4 linked regions of the Homo sapiens genome follow. The protein of the gene in region 1 interacts with the protein of each later gene in a pairwise test. Each region holds a gene or a part of one and is shown in the gene's direction. Other genes may lie near its edges.

The links.
Region 2: the proteins of PNLIPRP1 (region 1) and SLC18A1 interact in binary tests that used the Homo sapiens proteins (3 or more experiments, as listed by UniProt).
Region 3: the proteins of PNLIPRP1 (region 1) and AQP2 interact in binary tests that used the Homo sapiens proteins (3 or more experiments, as listed by UniProt).
Region 4: the proteins of PNLIPRP1 (region 1) and SLC7A1 interact in binary tests that used the Homo sapiens proteins (3 or more experiments, as listed by UniProt).

The regions. Positions count from the first base shown.
Region 1 is NC_000010.11:116,593,676-116,601,895, forward strand, and holds part of PNLIPRP1 (inactive pancreatic lipase-related protein 1 precursor), read left to right. Parts: intron 1-1,054; coding exon 1,055-1,189; intron 1,190-2,538; coding exon 2,539-2,647; intron 2,648-4,152; coding exon 4,153-4,272; intron 4,273-4,363; coding exon of another isoform or gene 4,364-4,371; coding exon 4,372-4,491; intron 4,492-6,371; coding exon 6,372-6,490; intron 6,491-7,396; coding exon 7,397-7,526; intron 7,527-8,220. UniProt on the Homo sapiens protein: May function as inhibitor of dietary triglyceride digestion. Lacks detectable lipase activity towards triglycerides, diglycerides, phosphatidylcholine, galactolipids or cholesterol esters (in vitro).
Region 2 is NC_000008.11:20,173,137-20,181,356, reverse strand, and holds part of SLC18A1 (chromaffin granule amine transporter), read left to right. Parts: intron 1-269; 5' UTR 270-392; coding exon 393-516; intron 517-1,872; coding exon 1,873-2,236; intron 2,237-2,863; coding exon 2,864-2,922; intron 2,923-6,912; coding exon 6,913-6,996; intron 6,997-8,220.
Region 3 is NC_000012.12:49,953,027-49,959,888, forward strand, and holds the end of AQP2 (aquaporin-2), read left to right. Parts: intron 1-1,107; exon of another isoform or gene 1,108-1,128; coding exon 1,129-1,293; exon of another isoform or gene 1,294-1,322; intron 1,323-1,603; coding exon 1,604-1,684; intron 1,685-2,372; coding exon 2,373-2,582; 3' UTR 2,583-5,852; downstream 5,853-6,862. UniProt on the Homo sapiens protein: Forms a water-specific channel that provides the plasma membranes of renal collecting duct with high permeability to water, thereby permitting water to move in the direction of an osmotic gradient. Plays an essential role in renal water homeostasis.
Region 4 is NC_000013.11:29,529,075-29,537,294, reverse strand, and holds part of SLC7A1 (high affinity cationic amino acid transporter 1), read left to right. Parts: intron 1-1,092; 5' UTR 1,093-1,106; coding exon 1,107-1,476; intron 1,477-4,312; coding exon 4,313-4,471; intron 4,472-6,582; coding exon 6,583-6,757; intron 6,758-8,220. UniProt on the Homo sapiens protein: High-affinity, low capacity permease involved in the transport of the cationic amino acids (arginine, lysine and ornithine) in non-hepatic tissues.

The DNA.
Region 1 (8,220 bases):
CCAGGTGCGCAGTGGCTCATGCCTGTAATCCCAGCACTTTGAGAGGCCGAGGCGGGTGGATCACCCGAGGTCAGGAGTTCAAGACCAGCGTAGCCAACATGGTGAAACCCTGTCTCTACTAAAAGTACAAAAATTAGCCAGGTGTGGTCGCAGGCGCCTGTAGTCCTAGCTACTCAGGAGGCTGAGGCAGGAGAATTGCTTAAATTCGGAGGCAGAGGTTGCAGTGAGCTGAGATCGCGCCACTGCACTCCAGCCTGGGCGACAGAATGAGGCTGTCTCAAAAAAAAAAAAAAAAAAAGAAAGAAAAAAAGAAAAGAAAAGAAAAGTCCTGAGGAGAAAACTCCCACTATCTCTGTGCATGTGATCACACATATTAGTATACTATATGTGGAATGATTCCAAGTGCATTTTAAATTTATAGTACCATTTTAAATTCAAGCTGGTAATATGTACTGCCTGGCAGAACTCCTAAAGATATATCAGCTCCTTTGACATCCAGGAAGACATTTTCCTTCCAGAATTCTTCAATCTCTTTTAAATCAGTACAGTTCTATTTTTCAAATATCTACATGTGTCTACTCCATGAAGTACTGTGTCATCGTGACTATAAAAATAGTGAAACTTCTCTCTCACTTTCCAGCAGCCTGGGGCATCGCCAAGAGCCTGAAAGGACCCCTTACAGTCAAATCCACAAGGTCATTTAGACACTGGCCACCGGAGATTGCACCTAAGACTTTTCCTTTTCAAAACAGGACTCTTTTCATGATGCAATTGTTTTTCCCTTACTAACCAACCTTACTGAATTTGGTTGAAGGAAACCAGAGAGTAGCCAGCTTCCAATTAATCTGCAAGCTGGAGGGGGAATCAGTTTGCCTTTCTCATAGCATTCACCCTGAAGGATAACTCCTAATTACCAACAGGATTCCCTAACAGAGTCTAGTTTATCTCATGCCCTAGCTAGGAGAAGAGAGAAGTGGCCATTTCTGAGCCCTGGCTGGATAAGGTTTCCCCTGCTCCCATTATCTCCCCAACCCCACTATCTCCCCAACACCAGAAACTGTTCGAGGTGGAGGAGGTGAACTGCATCTGCGTGGACTGGAAGAAGGGCTCCCAAGCCACCTACACACAGGCTGCCAACAACGTGCGAGTGGTGGGCGCCCAGGTGGCCCAGATGCTCGACATCCTCTTGGTGAGTCAGCTGGCTGGCCTATGTGAGGAGGGAAGCAGTGCCTGCTGGTCTCTGTTTGGTAGAGATGCAGCTGAGAGTTATGGATTAAAGAAGGACAAAGAATTGATATCCAGACCTTACTTCTAAAACTCTGAAATTTGCCTTCATAATGACACGCCAGTGGAAGCAAAAATAAGAATCGCTAACACTTAGAAAGTGGTTTTTTAAAAATCATCTTCAATTTACAGATAAAGAAACTGAGGCCCAGAAAGTTTAACTAGTTTGCTCCCAAAGTCATAAAGCAAATGAATAGAAGACCTGCCTTTTGATCCAGACCATCTAGCTTCAGAATTCACCCACAACACCAGGTGGGCTCTGTTTCGCGTGAAACACAGCATGGCCAGAGAGAGCCACAGAGAGCCAACGGACAGTACGTGCAATTGGCATGTACCAGCTCTACTGGCCTGGTGGTATGGGTCCTATTGATGTTGGGGAATTCCTTCTGCCACAATCATTTCACTTATTTCTTCCTATACTGTTTCATTATAGCTAACTCCTTCAGTCTTTAATTCTTTAAGTTGCTAATCCTTTGTGACTATTTTCTATACCAGGTAATGACTACAGCCATTTCTGTCTTATAGTTAAAGGGTCTACAAAAGAATCAACTTCTGCACTCCTGCAGAAATCAAAACCCATGGTATTTGTGCAAGAAGTATGATAGACCAATAAATGAAGTGCCTTTGGGTGAACGTCTCTGAGATCAACATGTGCAAATACCTCATAGCTCTATTTGATTTGCTTGTTCACCAGTACTTTTGGAGCAGAATGTCAGGAGTATGTGAGGAAGTAAAGAAGACACATGAGATCCCAGACCATCAAGGAGCTTGCAGTGAAAACTTGCAATGCCAGTAGAGTGCGATCTATTAGTGGGTTCTGATGGGGAGAGTAGGAGCTTTACAGGAACACATAGAAGGCAGCTAATCCACACTGATGGGGTGGGGAAAGGGCTTAAGGAGGTCTCCCAAGGAAGAGACGTCTAAATTGACAGCTGAAGGCTAGTCTGTTGATGTTAGCTGGCAAGTGCTTGGGGGATAGACAACAACAAGAAGAGAAGAACAAACCAGGCCCAGAGGTGAGAGGCTATGATGTATTCGAGGGTCTGAAAGTTCAACAAAGGGTTTGGCTGAAGAGTCTAGAAAAATAGATGATGAGTTAGGAAAGCTCGGAGGCCTTCAGAATGAGTTTGGGCTTGATCCTGAAGGCAATGAGAGGCATGGAAGGTTTTCAGCAGAGGAGTAATATCCATTAGGCTGGCATTTTAGAAAAACCACAGCAAAAAATGTCCTGAAAATACAATCTTCCCTCTCCAGACAGAGTATAGCTACCCCCCTTCCAAAGTTCACCTCATTGGCCACAGCCTGGGAGCCCACGTGGCTGGAGAGGCAGGAAGCAAGACTCCAGGCCTGAGCAGGATTACAGGTAAGGCCCCAGAGGCAGGGCCCCAGTTTTGTCCCCAGAAACCCCAGAATGAGGTCTCAAGAATGCAGCCCAGTTCAGAGCTCCCCTGAAGGAGACTGTCCCCCTTGGCTGTGATAGAGCTGCTTGGAGCCTGCACAGAACATTTTAGGGAGCCCCCAAGAAGCTCATGCGCCACCTTCACGGCAAGGGAAGGGTGATTTTGTTCCTCTTTGCTTCTTCCACCTCTGTCCTAGCCCCTCCTTTCTAAGTCCTGGTTTTCTGGTGGTGTTCGCCTCTCAACAGGACTGGGCACCCAGGAAAATGCAGAGTGAGACTAGTATGAACATGAGCAAAACATAATCAAGGAGGGTCTATATTGCCAATTCTTTCTCCCTTCTCTTTGAAATCAAGGGCAGAATAGAACCTAAAAATTGTTTCCCACTGCTTCTACTAGTAGAAGAAACCCAGTCGCCATTATGGCCAAAAGCATTCTTTTAACCCAATCAAAGCATTTGAATTATAACAGCAACAGCAAGATATATCTACATAATATGATGGTGATAATAATAATAATAATGCTATTATAATTATTATGATAAGCATAGATTAAGTGCCTGCTTATCCCAAATACTGCACAAAATGCTTTATATTTTCTTATATAATTCTCAGAACTGAAGAAAAAGGCTCAGGGATGCAAATAACTTGCCCAAAGCCACACAACTCATCAGTGGGAGAACTGAGATCCAGACCTGGTTTTGCCGATGTTTGGCTTAAGCAACTCTTTATAAGAAATCTCTCTTTTATTTTCAGCTGGCAACTACATTCACGTTCCTATTTTATCAGCTGCTGTAATGAAGCCTTCAAAAACTATTAACAAATCCAAGATCCCTACTAAGAAGGAAATTTGTCAAAAACAATAATTATTAATATCTTACTTATACACCCATGACTATACACCAGGCATTGTGCTAAGTGCTACCTATTAACTCATTTAATCTATAACAACCATATCAAATAGATGCCATTATCACCCCATTTTGTAAAATGAAGAACCTGAAGCACAAAAAGGTAGAGTGACATGCTCAAGGTCATGCATCTTGCCCCAAAAGCAGCTGAGTAGGAATTTGGAGCCAGGCAACCTAGACCCAGAACCTGTGTTCTTAACTATGATACCACATTGCTTCACCCCTTTCTTTCTACAAGCTTGGGGAGAGAAAGGATGATGAAGAAGAAAGATACACAAGTAAATGGGAGACTCTGGTGTGGAAAAAATCCTTGCTTAAACAAAATCTAAATTTCTTTGCTCATTTGTCCTCCTCCATCCACGCCACTGGGAACCCTTTTGCAATGAGCCACATTCAGACTCTATGTCCTCATATTTAGCACCCAAGGCCATGGCACTGCATCACTCTGGTGCATGGTACCCATTGAGTTGGGCAGTGCATAGCCCGGGCAGCTGTACACCTTGGTGCTGCTGACATCTACAGTCAGGTCTATTGTTCTGCAGTGCTGATCATCTCTTTTAGGGTTGGATCCTGTAGAAGCAAGTTTCGAGAGTACTCCTGAAGAGGTGCGACTTGATCCCTCTGATGCTGACTTTGTTGATGTGATTCACACGGATGCAGCTCCCCTGATCCCATTCTTGGGTGAGACCTATGATGCTCCAGCTGTGAGCACGCACAACTGTGTTTTAACCATGAAAGTCCTGCATGACAAAAAGCTCATTGTTTTTCTAAGCATTTCAGGTTTTGGAACGAACCAACAGATGGGTCATCTTGACTTCTTCCCCAATGGAGGAGAGAGCATGCCGGGATGCAAGAAGAATGCCCTGTCTCAGATCGTGGATCTAGATGGCATCTGGGCGGGTAAAGTCATGGTGGGGTGAGGGGAGCAGGGCGGGTACTTTCCTGGAGTGACCAATACCTTTCTGCAGCAAATCTTAAGAATAAAAATGAAACTGTCTTTAAAAATATACAATTCCCTCTTCTGGGGATTATTTCAGAAAAAATGTAGCTACATAGTATTTGTTATATCTCAGCTTTACTGCTTTTGTGCTTCCTTAAAACATTGCTGTGGATGTCCTGGCATGTACAAGCAACAAAGAATTATAAAACTGTCACTTAAAGCTGTGACTCCAGCAATCAGTTGGTAGTTACCTAATACAGAAAGGAAATACCATAAGAGCAAACATCCTGACTGTAACTAAGAGACTTTTGCTACAAATTCTCTCTTGGGAGTCAGTGATAAGGTTCAAAATGATGTAATCAGCTCCCTTTCAGTAGCTAGAATGAGAATATTCCCAGTGGTTTCCACAGCAAGCCTATTTGCACAATGAGAGCCATTGCTCACCCATGTTGAGTAGGAATGAGGAGCAATCACAGTTAAGGAAGGTGAGATGGGAGACTGCTATTGGATGTGGTTATTCTTTATTGTTGATCTAGCACACTTGGGAAGAAAGGGCATCCTGCAGACACAGCTCTGACTCTGTATCTAATGAGGCCAAAAGGACAATGGACAGGTGAAGTTTTCATCCAGACTTGTCATGTGGCACCACACGGAGAAAACCCTTAGTAGTCTGACCAAATGTAATGAGTAAAGATTTTTACTGAATTTCATCAAAATGGCTTGGCATATATGGATGCCATCAAAGCAAATATTAAGAATGAGGACAGGCCAGCTGTGGTGGCTCACGCCTATAATCCCAGCACTTTGGGAGGCCGAGGCGGGCAAATCACTTGAGGTCAGGAGTTTGAGACCAGCTTGGCCAACATGGTAAAACCCCGTCTCTACTAAAAATACAAAAAGTAGCCAGTCGTGGTGGTGCGTGGCTGCAATTCCAGCTGCTCGAGAGGCTGAGTCAGGAGAATCGCTTGAACCCAGGAGGCAAAGGTTGCAGTGAGCCGAGACCATGCCATTGCACCACAGCCTGGGCAACAAGAGCGAAACTCCATCTCGAAAATAAAATAAAATAAAATAAAATAAAATAAAATAAAATAAAAAATAAAGAATGAGGACATATGCAGTTTGTCTTTCACAGCCTCATGAGGGTTTGCGTGCATAGGGCAGTCAAAACTCTTCATCAGTAATGGCCCAGCAAGCTCAGGCCAGGTCTAGAAGGTATAATGTAACATTTGTCACTTGGCAGGAGTTGCAGGGAGCCCAGAAAGGTTGCAAGTAAAATCAAGACACTATGAGAGTGAAGCTCATACAAAACCACCTAAAGTTATCCAGCCCTTGTTTTTATTTGTATAACTGCCGCATGGAAATGTCCTCGCATTGGCTTGGTCATGTCACATCTGGTCATGTCTTTGAGGACCTCCAGCATGGTGCCTGGGACATGAGATGGCACTAAGGTTAGAGGGATGGGCCGAAGACAAGATGGGCATGGGTTTAATTACCAGCTTTCCCACCTATTAGCTAAGCTGTAAATCTGAGGCTACACTCTGTAGTCCTTTCTGTAACATAGGAATGAGATGATAATGCATAAATAAGGATGATATGGTACCCACCTCCTAGGAAGACTGAGGATTACATGGACAAGGCAGGTAAAGTGATCAGAATGTTGCCTTGTACACAGAAAGCACCCTCTATATGTTAATTGTCATTATGGTGGCTGAATTTTGGATTTATCTTAAGTTTCTGAAAATACGGTCCTACTTTGGAACCATCCCATTTGGAGAGAGAGGCAGAGAAGCTGTTACAGGCCCCCAACCACCTGTTCAGGTCTCCTTATTTGTTTTCCCAGGAACCCGGGACTTTGTGGCTTGCAATCACCTAAGAAGCTACAAGTATTACTTGGAAAGCATCCTCAATCCCGATGGGTTTGCTGCATATCCCTGCACTTCCTACAAGTCCTTTGAGTCTGTAAGCTATTGTCCTGCCTCGAGCAACAAGCATCACCCCTCTGAGGGACTGCTGTCCTGCTGCGTTTGGGATTTGCAATGCCTTCTCACTACACGTTTTGCATTGACCCTCAGAGTTCATGGTCCTGTGGAGTGGAAGAGAAAAAAAAGTAAACAACTTTTGGCAGGAGATGGCTAAAATTTTAGATGACATGAGTTATGTGGCAGAGGAAAACTGGGAAATCAGAGAGAAAGAGCAGTCAATTCAATGATATAGAGGCTTCCTGCAGGAGGCAACCTCTGAATCTAGCTTAAAAATGATACAGTTTAGAAAACACAGGAATGCACATTTCTGGCAAGGGCAGAGCGAGAGTAGAAGAATGTATAGAGAATAATTCACACCAGAGAGAAAGCAAGGTGGATGCTGGAGTCCTATATGCCAGGCTGGCAACAAGGGGAGAGATGAAGAATGACAGGTTAGAGCCTGCCTATTCTGGCTCACGAAAGCCAGCATGAGTATCCCTTCCCAACTCCAAATTCAGAGACATCATGTTGGTAGCCTGAAACTGGCCACAGTCAGAGTATTTACACCACTGAAAATGGTAAGCACTGCAATCCAGGGTTTTTGTCCCAGAGCTTTTGCTGCTTATCATTCACCAGCTCCACTCAACAGAAGGTATAATTGATCTAACCTGGGTCCTGGGCATCAGTATTTTTTAAAGCTCCTCAAATAATTCTAATGTGTTGTGCCTAAAAGTTGGGAACCCTGATCCAGATGAAGGTAATTTAGAGATCATCTGCTCCAACCCCTTTGTTGTCACAAAGGAGAACGCTTAGGCTGTAGGAAAATTGAGTGTCTGCCCTCTCAGATGTATCGATCATACAAACACAAATTCTCCTTACAGTCCCATCTATCTCTTCTCATTAGGACAAGTGCTTCCCGTGTCCAGATCAAGGATGCCCACAGATGGGTCACTATGCTGATAAATTTGCTGGCAGGACAAGTGAAGAGCAGCAGAAATTCTTCTTGAACACAGGAGAGGCTAGCAATTTCGCTCGTAAGTTGCACTTTGACTACCTGCCCATGTAAAGAAAGTATATAGTTTCTGTTACAAATGAGGGGCTTGCTTTCAACCTGAAATATTTGTGGGTACATTTTAATTATCTTAGAAATGGACACATTTACCGAAACTATTGCAGTTACAAGTAAACTGAGGATTTAGACAGAGTGTGCATTTCTTCCGTTCTATTTCTGCGGCATGAAATGAGAGCAAGCAACTAGTATAATTAATGGGATGAGGCCAGTTTGCACATCCTTGTGACCAGCTACCCTGAATTTTTACCACTCCACAGTTCATTGTTTCTTTCCTTTTTAAGGCCGCATCAGACACACCTGTTCTCTTCATTCAGCAAAGACGTAATTGGTACCAGCTCTTTGCTGGGCTATGTCCCTTAAGAAGCCCAACTCCATTCTCTGCTTTCCCCTCTGTCTGTGCATCCCTGATGCCCAGGGGCTGCCTCGCTGGTGGAGTGCAGGCAGGAATCAGGGGGAAGGATGATTTCTCTCCAAAACCTGCTGAATGGACTAAGACACAGGGTAGAGACTGGGCATGTTTGGGCCACTTTGTACCAACCTGCCCCATGACACTTCCATAGGAGGTGACCCAGTAAAGACAGAGGTTACATATTCATATAAATGTATAACACATCTTACATAGTTTTTAAAGTCAGATTTATTGAGGTATAATTTAT
Region 2 (8,220 bases), on another chromosome or scaffold:
TGTCGGATGTTTGAAAAACACAGGGTTAAGTGATCTGTAGAGCATCTATTTTTATCTGGATTTATACCTAGCCATTAAATTCAAGGGAAATTAATGGCTAGATATAAATCCAGACATAAATAGCTAGTAAGCGATGCTTACCAGGAAGGCATTCTGGGAACCAGGTAGAGTTATTGAGATTTATAAGAAGTGAACAGTGATACAGACATGGAGATGTTTCCAAATATCATCCTACTACTTGCAACCCTTTGCACTTTTCGTTTTAATAGTGAGTTTCCTTCGTCTGGGCAGACTCCCTCCCCTCTTCCATAAAGGCTGCAGGAGACCTGTAGCTGTCACAGGACCTTCCCTAAGAGCCCGCAGGGGAAGACTGCCCCAGTCCGGCCATCACCATGCTCCGGACCATTCTGGATGCTCCCCAGCGGTTGCTGAAGGAGGGGAGAGCGTCCCGGCAGCTGGTGCTGGTGGTGGTATTCGTCGCTTTGCTCCTGGACAACATGCTGTTTACTGTGGTGGGTACGTTTGTGGGTCTTTGTGCTGAGGGTTAATTTGCTGTGGGCCCCAGCAGGCAGTGTACACCCTGCTTGAGTTCAACAGTGAATCCATCTGAGAATTTTCCTTTTTATGCTCAAAAACACACAGAGGTTGTTGGGGACTGGAAAAAAGCCCTGCAGAAAATGGAGTCTGACACTTGTCAAACACAGCTAAAAGACTCAGGAGGTTCAAAGAGCAGGAGGTCCAGAGAGGGTCTGACTGGAGAAGAGGATGGCCCGGAGCCAGAACTGGCTGTGCTTTTCTTTCTCCCCACACTGTCTTCTCAAGGTGCTAATGACTCCAAGTGCCTCTGAGGCAGCGAGATCTTCTCACAGGGGTGCCTTTCTGGACTCTGCTCTATAAAAACAGCATATTTTATTTGGATATCTGATTTAGTATCAAGACCTTGCCTTCCTTGTGGTTCTTTCCCTCAGAATCCTGCTTTTTTTAGTTGATACTCTCCTAATCATTACATTAAGTTACACCCTTGTATAAATGGGCACTAAAAGGTTTCTCCTCTTGGGTAAAACATATGTTTTTAAAAAAGGATCTTTCTGAGACAAGTTGTTAATCCAATACAATCACTTCTCATTATTCATAGTTCTGTAGTTATAGTTATGCTCTATAAAGTCGCTGCAAACACTGAATTAGTGAATACTGAATCATTGCTCCCAGGGAAACACACACACACACACACACACACACACACACACAATTATAATCTTAAATCTTAAACATCGTGGTACATCGTGTTTTCTTTATAAAAGAGAAAAAGAAGTTCAGAAGTGTTAAGTGACTTGCCCAAGGCCTCTCCACTAGCAGGTGCCAGAGTTGGGATTCAAACCCTGTCCAGGGGTCCCAGAGCTGAGGCTCCTCTGACCACCCTGCCCTTCCTCCTCCCATCCCCTCCTGTGGCCAGGTCTGTGTGAGAGCTGGACATGTCTGTGAAATGTCGTGGTAGCTCAGTGTGTGTTGGTTTGGGGGGTTACATGTCAATCTAAGTGAGTAGGAGAGTTAGCCAATGTGGAAACCATGAACAATGAGGACTAACTGTATAAGGTCAGAATTTAGCTACTTTAGCTAATAGGATAACTTGGGCAGGCACAGTCTTTTAGTAGGTTTTAACCATGCCACTCCAGATACCAGCCTTGGGCATAAGGCTGAACCTCATCATAGTCCCCTGATCCTAGTAGTGGTAAGATGACATCTGTCCTTAGCCCCCATCACCTGTCCTCCTTGACTTTCAGTAGAATTGACATCTGTCCTTAGCCCCTTGAGTTTCAGTGGTAAGATGACATCGGTCCTTAGCCCCCATCACCTGTCCTCTTTGACTTTCAGTGCCAATTGTGCCCACCTTCCTATATGACATGGAGTTCAAAGAAGTCAACTCTTCTCTGCACCTCGGCCATGCCGGAAGTTCCCCACATGCCCTCGCCTCTCCTGCCTTTTCCACCATCTTCTCCTTCTTCAACAACAACACCGTGGCTGTTGAAGAAAGCGTACCTAGTGGAATAGCATGGATGAATGACACTGCCAGCACCATCCCACCTCCAGCCACTGAAGCCATCTCAGCTCATAAAAACAACTGCTTGCAAGGCACAGGTTTCTTGGAGGAAGAGATTACCCGGGTCGGGGTTCTGTTTGCTTCAAAGGCTGTGATGCAACTTCTGGTCAACCCATTCGTGGGCCCTCTCACCAACAGGTATCTCACTGGGTGCAGTGCCCCGCAGGGTACACAGGAGTAGGAGGACTAGAAAAGTATAGAAAGGGGGTTGGAAGGGAAAAAGAAGAAATACTCACTTGTATGATTCCTCAGGGGAGTCAGCTATTCGGAAAGCTCGTTACTCAAAGAATAACATGTTACTGATGAAATGTTATGGGATCAGATTTTCTTAGTGATATATTGAGTATTGAGTACCAAGAAGAGAACCATGAACAGCAGTGTGCTGTGATGTTCTATCAGTGACCTGGAGCATGGCTTGAATGGGAAAAGGGTATGAATGGGACAGTCCTGTTGTAATCTAGAGCACTGGCTTCCCAGGAGTTGTATTGACGATTATTCTGATATTTTCAAGAGATATACACTCCACCTAGGCTATCATTTCTGGAAATGAGAATTTTGGCCCTGATCTATGGTCATATCTGCATGTTTGTTTGTTTGCTCATACTCATCCACATGCCCTATTTCATCTCCACACTACATTCAGAGGCATGTTTTACCATACACCCAAATAGCTGCATTTCTGCTCCCACTTACATTTAAAAATGTAGTCCATGTATGTGAGTGCCTGTTGGAATTGTATCTTTTTTTTTTTCAATTCCCTTTTAGGATTGGATATCATATCCCCATGTTTGCTGGCTTTGTTATCATGTTTCTCTCCACAGTTAGTAAGTAATTTGCTTCCTCTTTTCTTCCCTTCACTGATTACCTTTGATTTTATCAAGTGAATGCGGTGTAGATAGCAGGGTAACCTAGAATGTAATTAGGCATCTGACTAAGCAGACTGGAATATTGGTTTAAATGCTCTGCTGTTTTTGGTATGTGGACTAGAACAGTAGTGACAATTCAGTCTAGTTGGAATTGGTCTATTCTGCTATAGAAGAACAGATATTTTATTCACTTCACTTCAGCTGGACATAATGAGAGCTGTTTGAATATGTATGCTACGGGGTGTGTGTGTGTGTGTGTGTGTGTGTGTGTTATATGCATCAGTAATCCCTTGAGCAAGTTTAATACAAACTTTCCATCTATGAGAAGCAATGATATTATTTTGTTATGCCATGGAAAAGGGCAACTCACAAAAAAATGGAAATTGGACAATAACATCTGGAAAATTCCAAAAAGCCTACTGCTTTTCAGTTAAGGGCTTTAAAGGTTAAGCTTAGAAAAGTAAATTTGCTAAAGAAACAAGAAAGAGAAAGACAAATACTCTATCCAGGATCAGCTAAATGTTTCTAATAAAATGGAGATGGGATAAACACAGTACATGAGAAAAGTAAGTCTGGAAATTGATGCTGAGAAGTAAAGGAAGAAGGAATGAAAAGGGTTAGCGTTAGCAGGTTAAGGCAGGGGAAGGCAGCCTGTGGATCCAGCCTTGGTTCCCGATGGCCCTGCTGAACCTCTGCTCTCCAACAACACACCTCCTTCTCCCTCGCGTTTTTCTTTTCTTTTCTTTTCTTTTTAATTATACTTTAAGTTCTAGGGTACACGTGCACAACGTGCAGGTTTGTTACGTATGTATACATGTGCCATGTTGGAGTACTGCACCCATTAACTCATCATTTACATTAGGTATATCTCCTAATGCTATCCCTCCCCTCTCCCCCGACTCCATGACAGGCCCCGGTGTGTGAAGTTCCCCTTCCGGTGTCCATGTGTTCTCTGTTCAATTCCCACCTATGAGTGAGAACATGCCTCTCATTTTTCTTATTACCTTTCTGTTCCTTGTCTACTTTCTGTCTTCCTCTTCCTCAACTTTTCTTCTTTCCCAGCACAGAACTTGATTCCTAGCAACCCAATATTTAACAAGAATTTGTTGCATTCTGGGCTGGAAGGCTGCAAACTGCAAGAACTTGAGATGTGAGGTTGTCTCTGAGAACTACGTCTTGTTTGTGAAATTTTAGTGGACTTGAAGAAAATGAAGAAATTCAAATTAGCACTGTTCATGGAACTTCTAGCAGTTCAGCCTAAGTTAGACAGCAAATTTAAAAATAATAAGATGCCAGGTGCCCTATTTCATCAAATGAGGCTTAAGATTTATTCCAAACAACTTTATGCAGTGCATGTATAATGCCCAGATGGCCATAGTCACATAAAGAATGAAAAGACATGATTCCAGCTATCAGAAGTGTATATGATGGTTGCCTGGGGAGACATGAGACACACACTGAGAAGTAAGACAATGCGGTGTGCTAGTGGATCTGAGACGTTTTAGCATGATATCCTTGCCTGATTCTCTGCCAAGAATTCATGTGTTAAAAGCTTTACTTTTAAAGTAAACTGTATATGTTAAGTAATTATTGTTTAACTTATACCAAACTATATATGTTAAATAATTATTATTTCCATAGGATAGCTGTGTTGCTATATGGAGTTGGCCTAATTCTAACCAAAAGAAAATACATTTGATGTTTAGGGTATCCTTGTCCAATGTTCTAAAAAATACTTAAAAGAGATTGTTGATGCCCGTTACTACCCTTAAACCCTCCACCCCCCAACTAGGAGCCATGCCTAATGTAATCAAGAGTGAAATGGTGGCCCATGTAAAGGGTCCAAAGTGAAAAAAATAATTGCTTTGGTATTCCTAAATAGAATGACCAACTCTCCTGGTTTGCCTAGAATTGAGGGGTGTCTTAGTCCATTTAGCATTGCTATAAAGGAGTACCTGAGGCTGGGTCATTTATATTAGAAAGAGGTTTGTTGGCTCATGGTTCTGCAGGCTCTACAAGAAGCATGACACCAGCATCTGCTTCTGGTGCGGGCCTCAGGGAGCTTCCACTCATGGTGGAAGGTGAAGGGGAGCTGGCTGTGCAGAGATGAGAGAGGAAGAAAGAGAGAGGAGAGGGAGGTGCCAGCCTTTTTTTAACCAGCAGCTCTTGAGAGAACTGTAGAGTGAGAACTCACTCACCACCAAAGGAAGACATTAAAGTATTCATGAGGGATCCTTCCCCATAACCCAAACACCTTCCACTGGGCCCCATCTCCAACACCGGGGATCAAATTTCAACATGAGATTTGGTGGGGACAAACAACCCATGTCCACACTGTAGTGAGGGGCTTCCCAGGATGTAAGACTTCCTGTTTTTGTGGGGTATTTTGAGTTTCAGTTTTAAAAACAAGGAAGTTCTGGGCAGACCAAGATGAGTGGGTCACTCTATTCTCAAAGGACATTGGGAGAGTAGACAGAAAAGACTGGAAATAACAAAGTCTGAGAAAAGATGCTGGTGGCCAGGAAAGAAGAGACCAAGAATGTGCATCTTTGGGAGACAAGGAGAAGTTCGGTGTGATCATGTCTGCCGGGAAGTAATGGGAGAAGATTAAAAACACAACCAAAGACATCTGTAATGAATGGGCAAAGGGATTACAATTCTTCTGATTCAGACACTTCGAGGAGATTATTCTTACCCTAGGAGACATTTTTCTGGAATTGGAGGTGAGACATGTCTGGACTTAACTACCCTGACCACCAGCACCCTCTGATTTAGTTTTGTGTTGCGGGAAGTCAGGGACCCTGAATGGAAGGACCTGCTGAAGCCATGACAGAAGAACATAAATCATGAAGATTTCATGGACATTTATTAGTTCCCCAAATTAATACTTTTATAATTTCTCACACTTGTCTTTACTGCAATCTCTGAACATAAAATTGTGAAGATTTCATGGACATTTATCACTTCCCCAATTATCAATACTCTTATAATTTCCTATGCCTGTCTTTACTTTAATCTCTTAATCCCATGGTCTTCGTAAACTGAGGATGTATGTCGACTCAGGACCCTGTGAGGATTGCGTTAACTGCACAAATTGTTCATAAAGCGTGTGTGTTTGAACAATATGAGATCTCAGAACCTTGAAAAAAGAATAGGATAATGGAGATGTTCAGGGAGCAAGGGGAGATAACCATTAGGTCTGACTGTCTGGGAGCCTGGCAGGACAGAGCCATATTTCTCTTATTGTTTTGGATGACATATTCCTGTTGGATCTCAGTTTCCTGGGTGTCCATCTTCAACACACTGCCTCTCTTCACGGACAATAACTAGATGTTATTTTTATTTTGCATTTGCTACAGAGTCTAGCAGAGCTGCGCATTCAGTATAATTTAATACCTGCTGATTTTGTCTGGTTAAAAGATCGTTCAATATAAGATATAAAAAAGGATCTGATTGTATCACAAGATATTATTTTCTACCCAATTCCTATAATCCTCGAAGCACCTACTTACTGTCACTGTACTCCAGATGATCCTGTGGGACCCAGCAATGGTAAAGACCAGATCTGGATTTTGCACATGGACGATCCAGGAGTATGATCTAAGAACCAGTTTCCAGCCTAGGACACTGAGCTTCATGGACATCCCTCATTTCAGTGGACAGAATGTTGGGTTCTTGGCAAGAGATGTACAGACTCAGCCTTCCATCTGCTGTGTGGTGACTCGGTTTATACTTCTGTGGTTTCTCAGTTTTCTTGCCATTTAAATAGCAAAACTGAGGAGTGGGAGATTGAAAAGACAACTCAAAAAACAGGGAACAGTCATCATGCTTTATTAAAAACATATGCATCAAGACTCATATCTGCAGTATCACGGGCATGTTCTCTGGCGGCTGGGGAAGCAAAGGCAATTTGCTAACTGCAGTTATCTTGCTATTCTCTCTGCCCAGTGTTTGCTTTTTCTGGGACCTATACTCTACTCTTTGTGGCCCGAACCCTTCAAGGCATTGGATCTTCATTTTCATCTGTTGCAGGTAACACTGGCAACTCATCATGCACACACACATGCAGGCATGCACACACACACATCTCTTACTACCTCAGATCCTATATTTACATGGAGAAATTAAGGAAAATGTCACCTGGATAGGTAGAAATTGTGATTCAGAAATAAGGGAATTGGGCTGGGCACAGTGGCTCACACCTGTAACCCCTGCACTTTGGGAAGCCAAGGCAGGAGGATAGCTTGATTCTAGGAGTCTGAGACCAACCCGGGCAGCCTGGGCAACATAGTGAGAGCCCTATTTCTATTAAAAAAAAGAGAGAATAAGTTAGCCAGGCATGGTGGTGTGCACCTGTGGTCCCAGCTACTTGGGAGGCTAAAGTGGGAGGATGGCTTGAGCTTGGGTGGTCAAGGCTGCAGTGAGCCATGATTGTGCCTCTGCACTTCAGCCTGGGTGACAGAGCTAGACCCTAACTCAAAAAAAAAAAAAAAAAAAGAAAGGAATTACAGAGTTTCTAACAGGGTCCATAGATCTCTGAGCCTGACATAACTTCCTCTGCTAATATTCAGATGCAGCTAGCTCAGGTCAGAGCAAGCCTCCAGTGAAGCTATGAAGAAGGGCAGGCTTTCATTTAGTGCCACTCTATGGTCCTTTTTCTGTCCCCCTCTTAGTACTTTATAGGAATAATCATGTTAGTACTACTGGTAACACCAGCACAGTTTTCAAAGTACTGGTGAATATAATATCTAATGCAATCTTATGAAGTTGGCATTTTATGCCATTTTACCCATAGCTATGAAGGCCAGAGGGTCCAGCTGCCGTACAGCACTAGCCCACACTTTCTTCCAGGTCTGCAGTGCTTTCCTGCTCTTCCCTGGGCACCCCTGTTAAATAGAATGGTCTCTGTGTGCCTAGATTTTCCTTTCCCTGATCTGCTCTGTAACCCCTCATTTTGGGAAATGTGCTAGGAAATGATAAAATGTTATGAAACATGGTATAATCAGACAATGGATTTTCTGTGTTATCCTTCCAGAGGGCTTGCACTATCAACAATATTCTGAACAGGAGTGGACAATGTGGGGGCTTGGGGGACTAGGGAGGGTAGTACTTGAAAAATACTACGGGTTAAGTTTTGTAAAACCCCTCAAACTGAAACTCTAGCTAAGATTGTCACTGAAGAGATAACAGGGTGGGACCAAGGGCTCTGAGAGGCGGATAGAAGCCCCCCAGGGGGCCAGCTGCATCTGTAACTCT
Region 3 (6,862 bases), on another chromosome or scaffold:
CTAGTCCTCCCACAGTCCTCCAGAATCCATTTTCTTATCCCATTTCACAGAAGGAGAAACTGAGGCCAAATTAAGTAGTCCCATGGCAAGTCAGAGGCCTCCAAAGTGTCTGCTTCCAAAGCTCTTTTCACTGTCCTCTAGAGACTCTGCATTGGACAACAATAGGAGGGATTGAGGTTAGACCCTAGAGAGACCCAAGGGTTCTGACCTGATGTCTCGGACCCAGGGGTGGGGGTTCAGGGCCTGGAGAAAGAGCGTGGGAGCTGAGAGCTGTCACTGTTCCACCCAGTGCAGTGCCCAGCCCCAGAAGGCAGGGTGTAGGGTACAGGGTGACAAAACCCAAGGAGAAATCCAGTGCTGGGTGCGGCCCAGTTATGAAATCACCTCTTTACTCAGCCCCGAGTTCTCTCCTTACCCAAGGCAGGGTCTGCTGAGACCATGGGCAGCCTACATGGGTGTGGAGGCATTGTCCAACACAGCTCCAGGGCCCTTACCCCAACCTCCATAGGATGTGCAGGGAGCAAACTAACAGGGCAAACCTGAGGCCTGAAAGGCAGTGGGGAATAGACAAGGGTTAGGGAAAGAGGTAGATTCCGGACTCATAGCGGAAAGGGGCACACTAGGACTGTCCCCCAGACCCAAGTCCCTAGACCCTGTCTCTGGGAGCCATTTAACCTCAGGAAGAAAGACCACAGGCCTCTCATTGCACCAAGGTCTGATGGTCTACAGACAGAGGAAGGTCTTCCTGCTAACCGGCCCAAAGCTTCCTGAGGCAGTTGAAACCTCTTCCCTTCTTGTTCTTTGGGAAACAGAAATTCCGGATCTCAGCATTCTTTTCCTCTCATACTGCAGGCTCCCAGCCTCAGGCCCCAATCTAATGGGCTACAGAGTCAGTTTTGCTACCTCTGGCGGGGGGACCATGGGCATCCTGGGGGATCAGGGGCTGCCTTTGGGCCAGGGCCCAGGAAGAAGGGATCAGTCGTTGCAGCTAAGGCGTCTGGCAAGCCCAGGTGTTCCGGCTCCCAGCCCAGAGGCCCCCTGGTGCCTCGACTGCAGGTGGACAGGAAGATGGAGCCAGAGAGGAAAGTGGGCTCAGTGTTCCCCTACCCGCCTCTTCTCTGTCCCCAGCTCAGCAACAGCACGACGGCTGGCCAGGCGGTGACTGTGGAGCTCTTCCTGACACTGCAGCTGGTGCTCTGCATCTTCGCCTCCACCGATGAGCGCCGCGGAGAGAACCCGGGCACCCCTGCTCTCTCCATAGGCTTCTCTGTGGCCCTGGGCCACCTCCTTGGGGTAGGTCATGGCCATGGGTTCCAGCCTCCCTGGAGGAACAGACACACAGACCACTCCAGAGACAGACACAGAGACCCCAAGAGGGACACATACACAGAACTCTCAAGAGGAACAGACACCCCAGAGGTTTGACTCCTAGATACCCCAGAGGGACAGATATCACTCCAGCCCATCTGTAAATAAAACGTGATGTTAATTGTCCATCACGTGGGTTCCCTTTAGGCTGAGGTCAAGCACTGCAGTGCGGGACAAGGACTTCCTGCCCTGTCCTCACCTCCCTTCTCTCTTTGATGCCCTCCTCCCACTGCAGATCCATTACACCGGCTGCTCTATGAATCCTGCCCGCTCCCTGGCTCCAGCTGTCGTCACTGGCAAATTTGATGACCACTGGGTAATGGCTGAAACCCCCTGCCCTCCCCTTCTCTAGAAACCCATTTTAGAGGGAGAACAAGAGCTGGAATAGCATGGGATGGGGGCTCAGCAGCGGTACCCCAAACCCTCCACACTCCTCCTGGTCCTGGGGAGCCTTGGGTTCCACCCCTCAGATCTGATGCCAAAGACTCAGTTTCCACGTCTGTGAATGAGGATGACAACAGCTTACCTCACTGGCTTCTTGGGAACAGTAAGTGAGGTTACCGGTGTAACCCAGATAATGCAGTGTCTGGCACTTAGAACTCTATAAGTGGTAGTATTTAGCACTTATCTGGTGCTTAGTATGTGGTGAGCCTTGTTCTGAGTGCTTTGCAAACATTAACTCAGTTTTCACAACCACCCCAGGAGGTAGACATTCTTAGAGTGAAAGGCACAGAGAGGGTAAGTAACTTGTTGAAGTGCACACAGCACTTAAGTGGTGGAATCAGGACACACACAGGCAGTGGCTTCAGAATTCGCACCCTTAACCCCGCACTGACAAGGCTTCCCCAGCAGCTGGCGTTGTCGTTGTAATTACATAAATAAGCATTTTACTAGATTAATGTCGGGGAGGAGAGGTGCGGCCGCAGAGTGTGCCGCCGGGGCCTGCGGGCTCCGCGTGCCGGTGCCGGCGCGGGTGCCAAGCCGCCCTCTCCGCTCGCCCCCAGGTCTTCTGGATCGGACCCCTGGTGGGCGCCATCCTGGGCTCCCTCCTCTACAACTACGTGCTGTTTCCGCCAGCCAAGAGCCTGTCGGAGCGCCTGGCAGTGCTGAAGGGCCTGGAGCCGGACACCGATTGGGAGGAGCGCGAGGTGCGACGGCGGCAGTCGGTGGAGCTGCACTCGCCGCAGAGCCTGCCACGGGGTACCAAGGCCTGAGGGCCGCCAGCGGCCTCTACGGCCCCGACGGACGCTTGTGAGGCCCGAGGCAGAAGGGCCCACCCCGTCCCTCCTCTCCCGCAGGTCTGAAGTTGGCCCCCCAGCGCAGAGTAGCTGCTTCCTGGACGTGCGCGCCCAGGCCAGTGCTGTGAGCAGGCGGGGAGGAGGCTGCCGGAGGGAGCCCTGAGCCTGGCAGGTCCCCTGCCCTGAGGCTGTGAGCAGCTAGTGGTGGCTTCTCCAGCCTTTTTCAGGGAACTGGGAACTTAGGGGACTGAGCTGGGGAGGGAGGCAGGTGGGTGGTAAGAGGGAAACTCTGGAGAGCCTGCACCCAGGTACTGAGTGGGGAGTGTACAGACCCCTGCCTTGGGGGTTCCGGGAATGATGCAACTGGTTTTACTAGTGTGCAAGTGTGTTCATCCCCAAGTTCTCTTTTGTCCTCACATGCAGAGTTGTGCATGCCCCTGAGTGTGAACAGGTTTGCCTACGTTGGTGCAAGTGTGCATGGCTGGGGACTTCTCACTTCCCCTTGCACCCCTTCCTCCCCAACCTGCAATAAATCCGCTTCTCCTGCAGTGGATGAGTGTGGGTGCCAGTCCTCCTCAGGAGAAGGGGAAGGGAAGGAGGCCACTTTGAGAGGGCTGAAGGGAGGGCCTTGATTTCCAGCCGCAATCTGGCTCCTCCTGGAAAATTTCCCCCACCTGCAGCGCTGGGCCCCAAGGCTTGCCAAGACTCATTGCTGGAGGTAGAGAGGTGTCAACCAGAGAACAGCTCCCCTAGACATGGCCTCTGGAAAAAGGAAATCTTTGGTGGCCAAAGATTTCCTTTCTGTGGTGAGGGAGAACCTCTCCAAAGAGGAAGCAGGCATATGAGTGCGCACGCCTTCACGTGTGTGTATGCTGTGTGTGCCCGGGACCCCCGTCTCCAGGGGTGCCCCAGACCCAGAGATTAGCCTCCCACTTCGGCGCAGAAAACAAAAGCCCTTTGTGGGACCCGGGCCTTTGTCTTGGGTGAGGGGAGATTTGCACCTAGACACTTCTTGAAAGGAGACACTCAGTTTCACAAGTGAGCCCTCTTGCCCAGCACACACCTATGGCTGGCTGGGCAAGGCGCTCAGGCATGCAACCATGGGCACCAGGCAATACCCATCCATCACCCATCTCACTCTCCCCAGTCCTCAGGCAGCAGCTTTTCCACCCCAGGAATCTCTGTTCCTTCTCTGTCTGCCTCTCCACAGCCCGTGATCCCCTGCTTCTGGCTCCTACCACTGGACAGTCATTGTGGATAGAGCAGCCTGCTGCTCTCAGGACCAGAGAAGGGAAATGACTTCTCCAGGCAGAGGCAGATCTGAGTCTAGAACCCAGGCTTCTAAATTTCTAGGCCAGTACTACTGCTCTCAAAAGAGATTAACTGGGATTAAGTGAGATGACGCATGTAAAGATGCTGTGTAAACTGTAATTCTTAATACCATTATCACGCATTACTAGAATCATTTCATTATTTCTGCTTCCTGGGGGAAGGATGCAGAAGGAGTCTGATGCTCAACATCCCTTACCTCCTTTCGTTGATGGCCAAAGCAAAGGAGAGTCCTGGGAGCCCACAAGATCCAGGCAGAAGGAGATGGGTTTGGGGCTGGCCCCATCCTGGCCCAGCCTCTTAACCTCTTCTTACCCTGAATGTGTGCCCTATCTTTTCTCCCACCTCCTTCCTCCTACCACCCAGCCCTATCCATTCTCTCCTTCCCTCTCCAGCCTGCTGTATAAGTAACATGTGGGTCATACCTTGAACCCCCCTCCGCCCCCATGCTCTCTGTGGCCTCCATGCCTTCAAGACTTCTGTCTGTATCTATCTCACACTGCACCAAGCACCCACTGTGCACCAGGCACTAAGTCTCTAGCCTCTTTCTCCCTTCTGCTCCCATCCAAGAAAGACAGTGTATAAGGAACATCTCTGTAATTGTGTCCCCTCTCATCTATGCTCTTTCCTGTCTTCCTTGACCAAAGCTCTCTTTGAGGTCCAAAAAAGGCTGCCCTGGGCCATATGTGCTATGGAGAGGACTCTCCCAAACCCCCAATAGCTAGTGACAGCCACTTGGCCTCACTACCAGAAGAAGGGTGGAGTCAGAAACCAAAGTGACCTCCAGAGCTGTCCTCCTGGCACCTGAGTGTCCTTGCTCTAGAGGTTCAAAGGCAGCAAGGCAGTGAGCTATGAGCCCAGCATGGATGTGTCTCAGGCACCTCATCCCCACCCCACCTCACCCCAACAAACTCCTCTAGAAGAAGCCAAGAATTTCTCTCTATGTCTGTTTCACTTTTTGGATTGCATCTCCCCAAAAACTAAATGTGAAATCCCTACCATTTCTAGCCTCTATTGCCCAGATTGGAGTCAGAGGTCAAAAAAGGATTCCAAGTGATGGAACTCCAGGGGTGGAGGGAAATTGGCAGTTCCTGGCATCTCTTGTGTACCAGCTGCTGTGCTGGGTGCCTTGCATGCACGGACTTATCTGATCTTCCTCAAACTTCAGATAGGTTAGGGAAGGACAAAGGCCCCCAGCCATGAAGGGTTTTGCTATTTCCAAAGCTTCCCCTTATCGTCCCCTGTGATTATCTCCCAACCCCGTGACAAAGGTAGAGCAAATATTGTTCTTCCCATTTTACAGATTCAGAAACCAAGGCTAAGGGACTGGTCTAAAGTCTCACAGGTAGTATATGGTGGAGCCAACACTTGAACTCAGACCTTTTTACACAAAATCCCATGATTTTTCCACTGAGACAAATCCTAGGCTCCTGGGAGGCCCTGGCAGAAGCCAGAACACATGGCTGGGCCTTTCCAGCCCAACCCACTGTCTTGCAGTGGACGGAGAGCCTTGGCGAGGGCAGCAGGGTAGAGAGGACAAAGAATGTGGGGCTGGTTTCTGCCCTTTAAGAGCACCCGGTCAGTCAGAGAACAGAGATCACACACACCAAACCAGACAGAGGCAGGGCAGCATGGAGACAGGTAGACAGACCTCCAGGTCCCTAAGCTGGGGACAGAGAAGGTTCTGAGCTGTCCCATACTCCCACTTTGTGCCAAATGACTTTGCACCTGCAAATGGTGCTTCAATGTCGTTTTGTATCTTTAAGCTGTGATGTTGTATATATACAATGCCTCCCAGCTAGACTGTAAGCCCTTTGGGGACAAGGGCTGCTTCCAGTTCTTGGATGGCGTTCTCCTATCTACCTTCCTTCAACTGCTCTGCATATAATAAGCACTCAATAAATGCTCATTTGCCAATAAGTACTGTTTCTTCCACAACTTGGCAGTGGTAATAGAAATACAGCCCAAGGTACCAGAAGACAGGCGGAGCTCCCTACCACTTCTACCCCAGCCCTCAACTTCTCCCAGGGAACTCAGAAGTCCCCATATCAGGAGAGGAGGGGAAGGGCTCTCCCTAAGACATTCAAATTCCCCCTGCCACAAATGGGGAGACCCATCACTCAGCTCACAAAGGTCCCGGGCATTCCTCTGGAGCTGCCAGGGCAGGGCCTGAGTGCTTGGGCAAAGAGAATTCCGAGACATAATGGGAGTTTACTGTGATGACTTGAGGACAGAGGGACTCTAGTGGTTAGAGAGATGGAAGAGCCTAAGACACAGGCCCTAGGAAACAGAATCAGCTGCCCTGTGTGAGTAACCTTGACAGATGAAATCTCCTTCTTTGGCCTCACCAGGCCCACTCCTGATGACCAAGTCTATGTGGCGACCTGTGGTTCCCATCTCAGGTCACTGTGTGACCCTAGGCAAGTGACCTCTGAGTCTGGGTTTCTTCATGGGTAGCTTGGAATCAAATCACACAGTGGAGGCCAATTATAATCTCTAACTTTGTAGATTATATTCTGAATCTCTAAAATGGCAAGAACAAGGTCTTGGCCTTTATAGTCCCTCATTAGTTCAAATCTTCAGGTCGGAGCTTCCCCTGGCAGCCAAGCCTCTTGTGAGCACTTGTGAATCCTTTCATTCTGAGATGCTGGAGTTTGAGACCTGTGGACTATGAAGACAGTGCCTGGGGAGAGAGGATGAGAAAGCAAGTGAAAGGGTGCGAACTGGAGGCAAGTTCAGCAGCAAAGGAGCCTGGCCCCCAATGGCCTCTGGGGTCATCAGGGTCATTGTCCAGCCCAAGTCCCAGGCCCAGAAGAAAATCCTGCGTACAACTGGCATGTACAGCTGGCATGATTGGCTGGGGACAAAGCGCTGGGACCCATGGAAGAAAGGACAGACTGACCTCCGGCCTTAAGAGGAGAGACCTG
Region 4 (8,220 bases), on another chromosome or scaffold:
GTGCCCCTCTCATCACATCGCTCTGCCAACATGACTGTCACTGTTATTGGCCTCGGTCACCTGCCGCAGGCGGTGGTCCTCGGGTTTCTCCACTGAAGAGTTTATCTGTTTTCCCACCCCCACCCTTCCATCCTGGACTCTATGGAAGGAAGTCTCTTCCCTTCAGATGTGGGGAGCAAAGCTCCCCCTTTTTGAGGGTGGCTGCTGGCCTGTCCTTGCCAAGGGCTCACCTGTCGCATCTGGTCGGGCAAGGTGGGCCCGTAGGTTGGAGGAAAGCAATCTCAGAGCCATCCCACAAGGCACAAGGTGTCCTGGGCCCTAATGGGGCATGTCCCATGTGAGGGTGGGATGGATGAATACATGTCCTCTCATGATAAGTGCCCAAGAGCATATCAGATATGCATATATATCATATACCACAGAGCACATTGGGCTGACATTTCAGCCCAGAAGAAAAGTGCTTCCTGTAGTAGTAACAGTGACGAAAAGCCCTCACTTGTAATAACTCAACATTTTTCTGCTTCGACCTACCTCTGTGTTACCTTAAAAGTGAAAACAACTTGCTCCTTACCCTCAGGGGATCCTAGAAAGATCTAGAAAAACATTGTTATTGCCATTCAGGGCCTCTGAGTTTTAATAATTTAATAATTTAATTTAGTAATGAAATTAAGATATGGTTTGGTTTGCTTTCTATTACAGCATACTTGAACTAACACCTTGTTTTTCCTGGTGTATTATCTGATGACTGAGTGTAGGAACAATGTCATTAATGTGTGTTTCCTCTACTGCATAATTTCCACCCATGGAAGAGTCTCCATTAAGAGGACCTGCTACAAATGTGGAAGCTCAGAGACCTCGAAATGAAGTCATCTGTATCTGTTGGCCTGCTGGGTTAATTCTGTATGTGCTGGTGAAACTGGAGAAGTCTGCGTGCTTCTGACAATTGATGGTGGAATTCTACGAATTAAAGCGTTTTAGCAGGAAATGATTATGAAGGACCTGATCACTGTCTGTGTTTCCATAATGTGATAAGATTAGAGTAATGGGTGAAATGAGGAGCAATCAGGAAACATCTTTGTTCTTTTTCAACAGCTCTGAACAGCAACATGGGGTGCAAAGTCCTGCTCAACATTGGGCAGCAGATGCTGCGGCGGAAGGTGGTGGACTGTAGCCGGGAGGAGACGCGGCTGTCTCGCTGCCTGAACACTTTTGATCTGGTGGCCCTCGGGGTGGGCAGCACACTGGGTGCTGGTGTCTACGTCCTGGCTGGAGCTGTGGCCCGTGAGAATGCAGGCCCTGCCATTGTCATCTCCTTCCTGATCGCTGCGCTGGCCTCAGTGCTGGCTGGCCTGTGCTATGGCGAGTTTGGTGCTCGGGTCCCCAAGACGGGCTCAGCTTACCTCTACAGCTATGTCACCGTTGGAGAGCTCTGGGCCTTCATCACCGGCTGGAACTTAATCCTCTCCTACATCATCGGTAGGTCCCAGGGGTCCGGAGCTCGTGCCCTCTACCACTTTTCTGTTTGTTCCCACCTCCAAAGTGTGGGTGGATGCCCCACAGGGAGGTCATTCTTGTTAACACGAGAGGCACAGAATTAATAGGATGTTTCTGATTCATTTAGAGGTATTTAGTTTCTTTTAGTAGGTTTTTAAATTACTAGAGTAAATGCATCACTGATAGAGAAAAATTGGGAAAATAAAGAAAAGCATGAAGAAGAAAGTAGAAATACCCTGCCTGACAACATGGAGAAACTAATTCTCTCATTCATTCATTCATTCTTTTAATAAATGTTCATTGAGTACCTGCTCTGGGCTGGGCATTGTGCTAGATACTAGGGATCCCATGAAGGCATAAGACACTCTGTGTTCAGAAGTTTACTGTCTACAGATACAACTATGGTTAACATTTTTGTGAATTTAAATGTGTATTTTTCTACAGTGTATCTCTTTATAAAACAATATATAGTAAACATTTCTCATATCATTAGCTATTTTTCCACAGTAACATTTCTAATGCTTGCCTACCATTGTATAGATTTATATACACAGCGTAATGTATTGGTGTCTTTATGGGATGTTCAGATTGTTTCCATTATGTTGTTGCTGTTGTTATTAACAGTTAATTACTTTATGTCTTTGGGCTTAGCCATGATTCTTTTCCTTAAAACTGTCTAAGGAGCAGAATGGCTGTCAGTGGGTCTGCGTGTTTTTAAGGCCTTTGTTGACTGTGATCCTCCACGTAGCCAGGGGCCCCTTTCCCTGCAGTGTGGGCACTGGGCATCGGCCTGTAACACATCCACCCAGCAAATAAGGAAGCAAATGTAGAAAATCTTTCCGGTTTGCCAGGTAAACACGCTTTGCTTCTCTTTATGCTTTTTTGTATTTTGATTACAACTGAAGTTGAACACATCAACTTAAAAGAAACAAAAACCTAAGTCTCAGAAGCAAAGGGTACAAACGGCCACTCAACATGCCATTTATTTTTTTTTTTCTCAAACTTTTTGGTAATAGCGAAAAAACAGTAAGACCTGTTAAGTTGAGCCATGTGGGTTCCGCCTTGCTTCTGTGTCAGCTCCCACTGGACCCCACCACACCCTCCCTGGCCACACATGCTGCCTGCTGGGATCCTCGCAGCCCTGGGCTCCCCACAGCCCTATCTCTGCATGGGGGGCATCACTCCCCCTTCACCAGGACAGCTGGGGGAGGGCACACACTCACATTCTCCGAGCAGCACCTTCTCTTTCTTTCCAGCAGCTGCAGTATCTGCTGAGAGCCAACATAGCTTAGTCTTCTGGGTTCTAAAATAAAATTCACAATGTTTTCTTTCAATGCCACATCAAAACTTAACAACCACACATGGTTCTCACAAGCTGAAGTCTCTCACTGGGAATGTAGCTATTGTAAATGGACCGTTATGTTTCCAGAGGATTTACCTGAGCATAAAATATACATTGAGCATGAAATGCTTGCAGCTTCTAGACCAACAAATGTAAGGCTCTGCGAGAGTGCCGTTTGCTTGTGTGAAACCATTTGCATGCATTATAAAAATGTGTTCTCAGCCTTAGCTGCTGGGAAGGGCAGTTTTTCCAGCAAACATTTTTTTAAAAGGCATAATTCAGAAATTGGGAGTGGATAGGCTGGGAAGAAAGGCTGGGGTAGCCCCTGTCACTGAGCAGGACAGGGTTTGGGAGCCACGTTTGCCATAAGCCAGCTGCTTTGGGGGTGACAGGGAGATGGTGAGACCATTTTTACAGAATTCATAATAGATTGGCTGCTTAGGAGGAAGAAATGTGGTTAAACTTCTGAGTTGTTGGAAAGATACTTACTTATCATAAGACCAAATAGTGAAATTGAATCTCTGCAGATCACTGTGGCAATATGCTGTGGATAATTAGGACCATGGTCACCGACAAGGCCCGCTTTGAAAATAAAGGAAAACGCTCTATGAAAATGCTGGAATTTTAGTGACATTTCCTGAGAAACACCAATGGAAACACATTCTGACACCCTTTAGAATTATGTGAGAGGAGAGAATGAGAGTGAAAGACAGCAGCCAACTATTGTTGGCATTTTGAGTGCTGCCCTGTTGGTGTTCTTCGGCACCGGAGGGTGCAGGCTGAGGGGAGAACGAGGAGGGCTGGGGTCTGTCTGCTGTCCTGCACTCTGGGGATGCTGTGGCCTCCGAATCAGGTTCAGGCAAAAAGTGGCAGAGGTGGCTGATGCCAACACTGAGATGAGCAAGTGGCTTTGTCCCTGAGATGGAGTTCAGCCCCTTCAAGGACTTCCTAGGGCCCCTCTTCTTGCTGAGAGAAGAATTATGGTGCAGGCACCATCATCTCTGCAGCCAAGGGGTTCCTAGAAAAGAGGCTTCCTAAGCAGCATTCCTCCAGACTGCCAGCTGCACCCCAGGAGTGCATTATGAAATCAATTTTTCATGAGTTGTCATCAATGTTTACTTTTTTTAATGAAACAAAGTAGGTAGCATTAAATATTATCAGAGTGCCTCTCAGGTGGTAAGGGTAACACTCGTTTTGCGAACTTTTTATTCGGATATATATATTTGATAGAATACACCTGTGTATATTGGGTAGGATGTGAAGTGCATTCCTCTGTAGGCCCTAGAAGCCTTCTCGCACTTAGCACTAGTCGACCGTCACTTCTGGCTCAGCATACACTGTGGTCTGGCTGCTGCTGCCAGATTCCAGTGCACCGTCGGTGACTCCTGCAATGATGTTATCAACATGGAGCTCCACTACAAATACCTGGCTAACAGTTGTCCTCACATCTCCTCTGTTGTGTGTGCTTTGTGGCAGGTACTTCAAGCGTAGCGAGGGCCTGGAGCGCCACCTTCGACGAGCTGATAGGCAGACCCATCGGGGAGTTCTCACGGACACACATGACTCTGAACGCCCCCGGCGTGCTGGCTGAAAACCCCGACATATTCGCAGTGATCATAATTCTCATCTTGACAGGTAAAGCCCACACTTAAAAAGAGATCGGGTCAGAGTGATGGGCAAAGGTTTGGTGAGAGGCTCCTGTTAAGTTCCTTTCTTTACTTATCTCTTTAACCATAACCCCCATTTCTTTTTGTTTTGTTTTTGTACTGCATGCAGGCATCTTTATTTGTTCCTGTCTTCATTGCTTCTTATAGATTCAGATAGGGCCGGCCTGCTTCATAGCTGTTGAATTGTGTGCCATTTCATTAAAAGAGAATCTTAGGTGTTTAGCCTAGCTGTTTGTGGAATAAGATTTTGTCTGCACTGCAGGCTTTTTGTGTGAGTGTCCTGGGAATAAAAGTTCTTTTGACTCAGTGGATGACCATTTGGAAAGCAAAACTGTCATTCATCAGCCAGGAAAATGTGGAGGAATGAGCTCCGTCTGGAACACTAATGTGTGCCTGGGGCGTCTGAAGATGACTTGGATGGTTTTTACACCTAACAACCATCAAAACACCCTTTCAGTAAATAAGTTTCATGACAGAGTTGTGGTTACAGAATTTGAAAAATCCCAGAGACTGCCTGAACACAGCTGATGGCAACTTCTTGCTAGTGACATTTGTGCGTGTCTTGGCCAGTGCAGCGCGAGTTTTGCTCTGTGGGGCTCCATAAACATGAAGCTGAAATGCAGATAAATTCTCATTTGGGGTTAGAAAATCTTGGATGAGTTTTAAAAATGACATGCCTTATTTTACACACCACATAATTGAAATAACTTCACTCAGGCTGGTCTCAGCAGTATTTCTGGTCCAGCTGGCAGAAACATGCATCAGAAAGTAAGTCTGCACTAGTGAGATTTCATTTTAATAAACCTGAGAGGGAGGGACACTAAAGAAACAATATATTGTTGTTTGTTGAGGTGTTCTCCCTGTGATTAATTACACAATTCTCTTCTAACATCTGTACTTTATAATTCAATCTCAAAAGTACAGCAGTTTTTATTTTATTTTATTTTATTTTATATTTGAGACAGAGTCTTGTTCTGTCACCCAGGCTGGAGTGCAGTTGCGCGATCTTGGCTCACTGCAACCTCTGCCTCCTGGGTTCAAGCGATTCTCACACCTCAGCCTCCCCAGTAGCTGCGATTACAGACACGCACCACCACACCCAGTTAATCTTTTATATTTTTAGTAGAGGTAAGGTTTTGCCATATTGGCCAGGCTGGTCTGGAACTCCTGACCTCAAAAGATCTGCCTGCTTCCCAAAGTATTGGGATTACAGGCGTGAGCGACCGCACCTAGCCAATTTTTATTTTAAAACGATGAGAGGCGTCCATGGCAGAGCAGTGGTCTCAAATCCTGGCTGTGTTCGAGTGGTACCAACCCCTTCTGTGCCACTTTTCTTGCCCAGCAGAGAGTTCAGCTATGGAAGTACCCGAATGACCTCTTCACCCTAAGGTGGTGCTGGGGCATGTGCCTCAAAGGCAGTGCTGTCAGAGGTTCCTGGGCATCTTTATTACTTATAGTTTTCTTTAAAAAAAAAACGTGAGTTTGCAAGCTAGAGCTAGCCTAGCTCAGATGTTATTTTATATGCACTGAGTCCAACGAAGAACCATGTGTGTTAGTGGTTCCAGAACCATAGCTAGTTGTTATTGTTAATATCACTAACATCCCAAAGTCAACCAGAATAATTTCCTCTTCTGAAAAATGTCCATTCTCCCAGGAAACTATGCAAAGTCTTTCTTCCTGGAATTGTTCCTAGAGGTTGTTTCCCAGCAACGCATCCTTTTAGTGAGAGGGAGCGGCTTGGTGTGCGGGTCCAGGCTTTCCCCTCCCTATGAGAGGGGCTCATGCTCCAGATCTCTGCAGTTCTCGGGTGCCCCTTGGGTGGGCTTCTCAGTTCCCAAGGGTATCTGGAGGTCACCTAGGAGGGCCTGGGAAGCACCCACAACCTTGGTGATTTAAACCCCTGATCCCCGCCCCCAGAAAGATAATTAATCCACCCCATTCCCAGAGGCTCACAGAGGTCTGCAGAGGCTCGATGCACTTGGATTCTTTTTCAGTCGCCTTCTTATCCCCATCCAGGAAGGACCTTCCCAGTTTGTGGTTAACACTCAGACAAAGTTTTGTGTCTATGCACTTTTTCAGGACTTTTAACTCTTGGTGTGAAAGAGTCGGCCATGGTCAACAAAATATTCACTTGTATTAACGTCCTGGTCCTGGGCTTCATAATGGTGTCAGGATTTGTGAAAGGATCGGTTAAAAACTGGCAGCTCACGGAGGAGGATTTTGGGAACACATCAGGCCGTCTCTGTTTGAACAAGTGAGTTGCTGCTTCTGACCATTTTTCTTAGTTGACATTTAATGACATAGATTGTATGGGGGATATAACTGGCTAGGATGGCATGTGCTTTTAAGAAAACATTATTTGAGGATATTTTGTTAATTGTTTTGTGTTTTTGCAGTGAAGTAGCTGAGGGTATTTTGTATGTATCAAGTTTGTGTGAAGGTTTATTCCCCTGAAATGGAAAGACTATTGTATGACAAGAAAGACTGAGGAAAAGAAAATCATCACCCTAATTCCAAATTGTGTATCATTCAGGATTCTTGTCAGACTCATTAAATGATCCCTCTTTCCCCAGATTCTGTTTGATGGCCAACTTTGGAATTTTGTGTTCAGAAAAGATTTTTCTCTGCAGTGCCGTGGTGACCTCACTTCACCTTTAAATACCTTCCTATTAGATTAATAATGTAGAGGGAAGAGAAATAGGTGAAACTATTTTTGAAGGTTTTCAGAATGACTGAAGTGTCAGAATGTGAGCACAATAGTCTTTCGCCGACATTTGACTTGTGCTGCTCAAGCCCTGGCGACAGTGGCCCCATCACCCTCATGTCTCTGACACAGACATCCGGAACTGGAGGTGACAGCTCCACCCTGTGCCATCTCAGGTCTCTCGCCCAGCCCTCATTGAAAGCTCAGATAACCTAGGAAAAAAAAGCCAAACAGTCATATCTTTTTTATCTTTGTTGTCAGATCTCCATGTAATTCTTTAGGTCTCAGGATGGACAATGGGGACTTGGATTTTGTGTGTGATTCTTCATTAAGACTGAAGGTTGAAACTGCTATGATAAAGAGACCCCCTCCAACTGCCACAATGGAGTGTGGCTTTAAAGAAGAGATGTTTCCAGTCCTGAAGTGAGCAGTCCGCGTTGGCTGGCCAGCTTTGCCACAGGCCTCTGTGGACCTAGACATCTTCTGTCTTGCTCCATCTTCCCCCAGGACATTGTCCTCATCTGCCTGGTCAGAGCTGGCTGTAGGCACGAGCATGACCCAGCTCTTCCAGAAGGGAAAAGAGAGCGTAGAGGAGAGTGCTCAGGTCTGTTCAGGACAGACCAGAAGACACACAGACATTCCATTGGCAAGAGTCCACTGGGGGCCACATAGAGCTGCAAGGGAGGCTGAGAAGCACTATCTCACATTGGGAATCTTAGCAGTCACGTATGCCCAGTTGGTCACTGGTTCAGGGCCAGGTGCCAGCCATGTCGCCCAGTATTGTTACCAGTGGGCAGGCATTGATGTGTGACTACTTGAATGGAAACAGGAAACTATGGCATTCGGTGCACGAAACTTCACTAACACTAATATTTTGTGGTTAGCAGTTCTAATAAAACTGCTTTCCTAAACTCTGTTATGGAGAACTGAGGCCTTTGAATATGTCATCCCGAGCATTTCAGAGTCATATTTATGCCAAATTTATGGGTGTCCATTAATCTAGGGTGGAGTGA